Linked DNA regions of Homo sapiens. The protein of the gene in region 2 purifies or fractionates together with the protein of the main gene of each other region. This does not show direct contact. Each region holds a gene or a part of one and is shown on either strand. Other genes may lie near its edges.

What was found.
Region 1: the proteins of OXNAD1 (region 2) and MMAB purify together in Homo sapiens (affinity purification with mass spectrometry; one large-scale study listed by BioGRID and IntAct). This does not show direct contact.

Annotation. Positions count from the first base shown.
Region 1 is NC_000012.12:109,563,397-109,567,216, forward strand, and holds part of MMAB (corrinoid adenosyltransferase MMAB precursor), read right to left. Parts: intron 3,772-3,820; exon of another isoform or gene 3,632-3,771; coding exon of another isoform or gene 3,615-3,631; intron 1,781-3,614; coding exon 1,723-1,780; intron 1-1,722. UniProt on the Homo sapiens protein: Converts cob(I)alamin to adenosylcobalamin (adenosylcob(III)alamin), a coenzyme for methylmalonyl-CoA mutase, therefore participates in the final step of the vitamin B12 conversion.
Region 2 is NC_000003.12:16,271,589-16,275,408, reverse strand, and holds part of OXNAD1 (oxidoreductase NAD-binding domain-containing protein 1 isoform 2 precursor), read right to left. Parts: intron 3,751-3,820; coding exon 3,687-3,750; intron 3,265-3,686; exon of another isoform or gene 3,190-3,264; coding exon of another isoform or gene 3,088-3,189; intron 551-3,087; exon of another isoform or gene 122-550; intron 1-121.

The DNA.
Region 1 (3,820 bases), on a different chromosome or scaffold from region 2:
GGCATTGCTGCCCGGCCTCATCCACAGGCCCTGCGAGCGGCTACCAGGCCAGGCGGGGCTCCCAGGTGAACCAGACACTGTCCCCGCCCTCACAGTGCCAAGGCTGGGTGGGAGGTGGATGGGTGAACAGGTTAACACCCCTTGTGATGCCTGTGGTTAGAGGATGTGGAAATCCAGGAGCAGTGCCTAACCCAGCTGGAGATTAGGTGGCCAGGGAAGGCCCTTGAGGAGGTGACGTGACAGCTGCGACCCAACGCGTACAGCAGACAGAAATGACCGCTGCTACCGCGGCTCCTCAGGAGGTTGAAAGCCTTCCTCCACCACACAGAATGTTCTGGCAGCTGAGGCTTCCTCCTGCAGCCACAGCCTGTGGCAGCCCCACCTACTACCCTCCGTCTGTTCCCAGGGGCCTGAGCAGGCTCCAGCCTGGGCTTCAGAACGGAAGTGGGAAGGGCTGACCCTGCGGGGAGCGGTTTCTGGGGACCTGGGTCCATGTGGAGGTGGAAAGTGCGGCACCCTGGGCATTCTGGGGTGGTGACCCTGTCTCCGTGCTTGAAGTTCTCTGCGTGGGTCAGAGGCCCCCTCCTTCTTAGGGAACAGAACAGTGACACTGTGACGCATGAGTCCCACGGGCTGAGGGCTCACTGCAGCTAGGCTTCCCAGGTTCCCTCTGCATCGGGCATGAGCGAGGCACTTCACACCGGCTTTCTCAGCCTCGGTGCTATTGCCATTCAAGGCCGGGTCATTCTTCGTTGACGGGGGCTGTCCCCTGCATTGCAGGATATTTACATGCCAGCAACACCCCCAACACCCAGATGTGGCAACCAAAAATGTCTCCAGATATTGCTCAGCGGGCCCTGAGGGGCAGAATGGCCCTGGGTTGAGAACCGTTGCATTTTAAATTCCCTCATTTAGTACAATCCTCCCCACTCGCCTGTGAAGGAAGATTATATGTCTCCAGTTGTTTGTTTTGGAGACAGAGGTTTTTTTTTTTTTTTTTTTTTAAAGACAGGATCCCACTCTGTTGCCCAGGCTACAGTGCAGTGGTGTAATCACATCTCACTGCAGCCTCAACCTGTAAGACTCAAGCGATTCTCCCACCTCAGCCTTGTAAGTTGCTGGGACTATGGGTGCATGCCACCATACTTGGCTAATTTTTAATTTTTTTTTTTTTTTGTAGAGACAGGGTCTCCCTAAGTTGCCCAGGCTGGTCTTGAACTCCTGGCTTGAAGTGATGCTCCCACCTTGGCCGCCCAAAGTGCTGGGATTACAGGCTTAATTGAACCATGGTGCTCGGCCTGAGACAGGGTCTCAATCTCTTGCCCAGGCAGGAGTGCAGTGGCATGATCACAGCTCACTGCAGCCTTGACCTCCTGGGCTCAAGAGATCCTCCTACCTCAGTTTCCTGAGTAGCTAAGGCTACAGGCATTCACCACTATGCCTGGCTAATTTTCAAATATTTTGTAGAGTCAGGGTCTTATTATGTTACCTAGGCTCCTGGCCTCAAGTGATCTTCCTGCCTCAGTCTCCCAAGTAGCTGAGATTGCAGGTGTGAGCCACCATACCTGGCCTGTCCGCATTTTACAGATGAAGAAATGGAGCTCACAGAGGGAGAGTAACTAGCCCCAGGTGACACAAAGAGTAACTGGTGGCTGGATGCTGAGTCCCGTGATGGCCACCGGGGCTGAAGATTCCCAGCTTGGGTGAGATGGTGTTACTCACTTTCTGAAGCTCTTCGGCAAATGTATGGCCCTTTTCTGTGACTAATTCCAGAGCAAACCTATGAAGAAAAAGGAAAAAGAATTTGCCTGTAATGTAATGTCCCTAGGCCCTGTCTTGCCATAAACAATAGATTCTCAGGTGGCAGGCCATTTAGTTAATTTAGCTATAATAGCCATGTTATTTTTCTTGCTAACAATAAGAACATTATAGCCTTCCATTTGGGGGCGGTGGTATTTGTTTCTTGAAATGCCTTTTCGGATGCTCATTATTTCCAGTCAAGAATTCCTTTTGAACAGCTACTCTGGCCAGGCCCAGGAGAGTCAGTGGTGAACAGAAGCTGACCCAGGCTCTCTCCAGCAAGTTGGTGACAGGGTGAGCAGTGACAGTCTCAAGTGCTGGATCCTGAGCTCTGACCCGCAGCCCTGTGGTGATAGGTGAGTGGGAACCAGACAGACCCAGGTGCAAATTCTGCACCGCTGCTGAGTGTCTCTGGGACTTCAGGCAAAGCTTACACCTTCATGTTCAGGAGCGTGATATTCAGGAGTGTGATAGGTAATCAGATTAGACATACTCCTGAATGTGAAGGTGCAAACTGAGATCAGTGCTCTGAAGGAAAGAGCAATAGAAGCCTAATCTGACCTTGGCTAGAGAGGCAGGGAGGGCTTCCTGGAGGAGGTGATGCTGGAGGGGAGACTTTGAAGGCTGGGGAGGACTTCCCTCATAAGGCAGAGAAAGCAAACTGCCCCCCGACACAGGTCAGGACCCTGGCTCTGCCTCCCTCAGAACCCTGCACTTCCCTCCTGCACCAGTCAGTGCCCCAGCAGGAGACAGTGGCGCGCTGCAGGGATTCCTGGAGGAGGGCTTTGGGAAGGGACAATTCACAGAGGTATGGGCAGAGTTTCAGGGAAATGCAGGAGCCTGAAGGGCAAGGGTCGGGGAAGGTACAACTCACCCTGGAGGGAGCTGAATTCTGGAGTCACTCAGCAGGGAGGGAGTTAGGTAGGGAGCCCAGCTGCCACCAGAGCCATGCACCACTGGGGAACAGGGTCACACACACTCATGAGCTCTCTGCACTCACTCTCCTATCACCTACTGGTGCCTCCCACTGGCTGGACCCACCTGAATGCCAGAAGACCAACGAATCGAGGTGGCACAGCCACCAGGTGATAAGGTCAGCCTCCCATGCATAAAGAGAAGGTGAAGAGAAGGGATTTGAAAGGGCCAATGGAGAATATCCAGCCCATCTTCCTGGCACATCTTACAGTTAGAACTAAACACACCAGTATGTGATTCCCGTCTGGTGTGTCTTCCCCTCTGGACCAAAGGGAGGGCTGTGCAGGCTGGGACACAGTCTGTCTCCATCATAGCGGATGCCCCATGCCTGCCTCACAGGAGGTGTGCAGAAGTACCTGCTTGCCGAGGGATGCCCCGTGACCAGGCCAGTGGCAGGCCCCACCCTGGGCACTTGCCCCAAGCCTGCTCCCACCCTCGTAGCTGCCCAGTGAGTGCTGCCTGCTCCCTGCACTCTGCAGCTCAGGAAGGTGGGGCTGAGGTTCTGCTCCCTGCACTCTGCAGCTCAGGAAGGCGGGGCTGAGGTTCTCTGTTGAGCAGCGCCTCGCACTGCAGATGCTTGGTCAATATCTGACCAAGGAAGAATCCACAACTGAGGTTTCTCCAACCTCCCGCTCCTCCTCAACTGAGAGACGATGGCTCGTGTTTTAGAGCTCATTAGAATAGCTGATGCGAGAACTGGCCTTTTCTCCCTTTGCCCACTTGGTCTTGTGTCTGCCCTCTTCTGGACCCCCTCCCACACACACCAAGGGGTTTGTTTGCCTTCTCTACCCGGCTGGCTGACTATCTGTACCTCCCATTATCTGTCCCGAAAATCTCACCTAGTCAGGCCCGCCATGGAGAAATGGTAGCCAGGAACAGGTAAGTGTTAAGAATAGTAATAATGAGGAGACTCGCTTGAACCCGGGAGGCAGAGGTTGCAGTGAGCCGAGATCACACCATTGCACTCCAGTCTGGGCAACAAGCGCGAAACTCCGTCTCGGAAAAAAAAAAAAAAGAAGAGTGATAATAGCTAACATTATTTTTA
Region 2 (3,820 bases):
TTGCAGAGACTGGGTCTTGCTATGTTGCCCAAGCTGGTCTTAAACTCCTGGTCTCAAGTGATCCTCCTGTTTCAGCCTCCCAAAGTGCTGGGATTACAGACACGAGCCACTGCGCTTGACCACAAATTGAACATTCTTACTGCAGACAAGACACAACTAAAGAACATTTTTGGCAGAAAGTCTGTAAGCTACATTCTAAGATAACTCTTCCTGACCTACAAACAACAAACTATAGGTAGACTGAAGTCTTTGGAAGTTCTTATAAGACAGCCAAAGCAGGAAAACTGGCTATCTGAAGAAAATGTCAGATGATAAAAAACTGTTTTACAACAGGGGATGTCACTATGATACAGAGTAAAAAGGCTTTAAAGCTATGACTGTTTTATAAGCTTTCTCCAGCCAAATCAAACTTTATGTAAAGGGAACTTTTTCCTGTATAAAGTTCTGATCTTAAGGAACTATGAGAGTGCTCTAATGTTATCAACTGTATCCTGTTCTTAAAATGCTCATTTTTAGAAAAACTAGAGAGTTGTGCTGAAGAGAAAAAGTTTTATTAGTTGATAATTTTCCAAATTAAAGTTAAAATTCGGTGAATAAATGGTACGATTCGGTCATAACATGAAAGAACAAGGGCATGTTCAAAAGAACCTGAAACAGACGTCAGGTTCAGCAATCAGTCCTGGTTTCACCACTGGCATATATGGCTTGGGCAAGTTACTTATCAAGACTGAAGCTCAGTCCCTAATCTATAAAATATTTACTAGATCTCTAATAGTCTGTTTCTTTATAGTTCTTTCCCTTTTTCTTAAGATAATTTTGTTAGAACAGGTTTTCCCTAAGATTAGACATACTTTCATAATACTAGAAGTTGGCTAGAATTTGACATTAACTATTGCATTATCCTCAGTATTTACTGAATTCTGTGTTGCCTGACCTTTTGGCTATAGTTATGTATCTGTTACATAAAGGAAAATACACCTTTTATAATTTTATTCCAGTGGAACCAAACTAAGGAACTGCCCCTTAGCCGAGTTCTCAGGTGAGGTACTTCAAACTTGAAAGAATATGTATATCAGTACTTTATATGTCACTAACCATCATAATACATAGTCATTTAAGCTTAACATACTGTAGTTATAGTTATATTTATAAACCAAAAATTTTAATGAGGTTAATTTTAAATATATTTAAGTATATTTTAGAAATCATAGTTGATATCTTTTGTTTTTTTTTTTTTTTTTAGTGATAGTACAGTGATTTATTGGAAGGGGGAAAGCACACACCCAACAAAAGGGAGTGTGAGCGTACTCAGAGAGAGACGTGCCATTAGCATCTATTTCTTAATAGGTGTAACCTTTAAAGTATGTGCCTGCCTCATTTGTAAACCACAGAATACTGAATACTGTACATTCCCACTTATGTATATTTTATTAAAATTAATAAGCAAGAAATTATAGATAAGTGGTGATAACCTTAGGGAGATAAAGGTCTTTTATTAGGAAACAGAAATGATGGTGATATAAATAAAAATACTGTTTATATCCACACAAATTTGAAAAATGTAAAAGACTTTGTGGTAACAATAAAAATGTGAGAAATAGATATGTTTCCTTAGAATTGGCAGTCAACATAATTAAGTATGTTAATGCCTATGATGGATGCTGTGCAAGTTCCTATTAGTCCGATTCTTAGTCTTTTCATCTGTTAAAAAGAAAATACTGGCCAGGTGTGGTGGCTCATGCCTGTAATCCCAGCACTTTGGGAGGCCAAAGAGAAGGGATCACTTGAGGCCAGGAGTTCAAGACCAGCCTGGGCAACACAGCAAGACCATCTTTACAAAAAATTAAAAATTAGCTGAGCACAATAGTGTGCCTGTAGTCCTCGCTAATCAGGAGGCTTAGGCAGGAGGATCAGTCGAGCTTGGGAGACAGAAGCTGCTGTGAGCCATGACTGTACCCCTGTACCCACTGCACTCCAGCCTGGGTGACAGAGCAAGACTCTGTCTCAAAAAAAAAAAAAAAAAACAAGAAAATACTATTAACTATCTATCTATCTTACCTGTCTTAAAATATTATTATGTATCTTACGGCATAGTTTTGAGAATTCTGTAAGGTAAGAAACAAGTTTTTGGTCCTGGAAAACAGGAGGTGCTCAGTAAATATCAGTTGACGCTAAACAGTAAATAATATACTAATTGTTTGTAAATGCTTGATGATTCTTTTTTGCTTATATTTCACTTAGTTTCTGCAGGCTATTAAAATTAATTGGTCTTGTAAAATAAAATTCTGAAATGAATACTCTAATTCAGGGACTAGCAAATTATTACCTGCAGGCCAAATCTGGGTGTTTGGTAAATGAAATTTGTATACATACTGTCTATGGCTCTTTTCACATTATAAAATCAAAGATTAGAAGTTGTAATTAAGACAGCACGGCCCAAAAAATCTAAAGTATTTACTATCTGGCCTTCTAGGGAAAGATTTTCAACCTCTGCTCTAATTCTACCAGCCTCAAAATACAACAGGAAAGAGCCTGTAAGATAAATCACTTTTTTTTTTCATAATTTGCAAGGCCTTCATTTTATAAAAAGAAATCCTAACAAGTCTCACATTTACAGAATCAGCATTTTTGGTCACTTGAACAAACCAAAAAAAAAGTATTTTCAGATTTATTATTGGAAAAAGTGTACTTCCCCACAAGCTCCTAAATCTACTATGCTAAACTAATTTTACAGACTTCTCAAAAAAAAAAAAAAAAAAAAGAACTTTAAGCTGAATCAACAAACACATTACCCTTAGTCCCAAAGTAACTTTCTGAAAGAAGTTAGCCTTAAAAGTAGGGCCTAAACAATATGCCTTTACATTAAAGTGTATCCTTCTATTAATAGATAAATTTAAATGAGACAATATAATTTCTGCCCATGTTTGTAGAAGTATATAATCCTTCTTTACATGAAATAGTTTTTTTATTGTTAGCTTACATATACTTATAACACTAAGCTAAATATATCTGAGTAAGTGATAAACATTCAAAAAAGCAAAATCAAATATCCGATTTATGTTTTTAAACAAAAATGGGGTTACTCACTGAGGTAAAGGGTGAGGATCCTTTATTTCTCAGCCCTTGACACCCCTTCAGGTGGTAGATTAGCTTTCTATAGTCTGAATATGGTGGAAAAAATCTGTACATTAGAAGGGTAACAAGAGCTCGTCCACTTTCCTTTCTCAGATGTTAGTGCTTTCTCCCTTGATGAAATAAGTTGCTCTAAAGCAGGAATGAGAACAAGAACTTTGAGATGTGACGCAAAAAAAAAAAAAAGACCCCACACAAAAAAACAGAGAAAGGTAAGCTATTCATAAAATGTAGGCTTTAAAGGAAGTTCTAGTGCTAAAACATAACCCTAAACATCATACCTGTGAGGATGGCTCCCTCAGTTGCTGCTCTACTTGCTTCATCAAAAGGTAATCCATTCATTCCAAGTTTAAAGGGAAAAATTTGAGTATCTGTCATCTTTTCAAATCAGATATCAAATGTCCTGCTCAGAAAATTTCTAAATAGAAAAATAACAAACTTCCCAACTCTCCTTCAAAAGGACCAGACTCATCTAATGCTTTACCCATAAGCCAGTCATAACCACATGTAAACGGTCTAGCTGGAAAAACCTGTCATACCCCAAAGATACAAACCTCCCGTCGAAGGACACTTGCAGTTCTCTCCATGTGATCAGTTTTCCTTTTGGATTTCATTATGCTTTAATAGAAAGTAAAATTAGGTTATTACATATTATCCTCATAAAAATAATAAAATTAGTTTTTCCTGA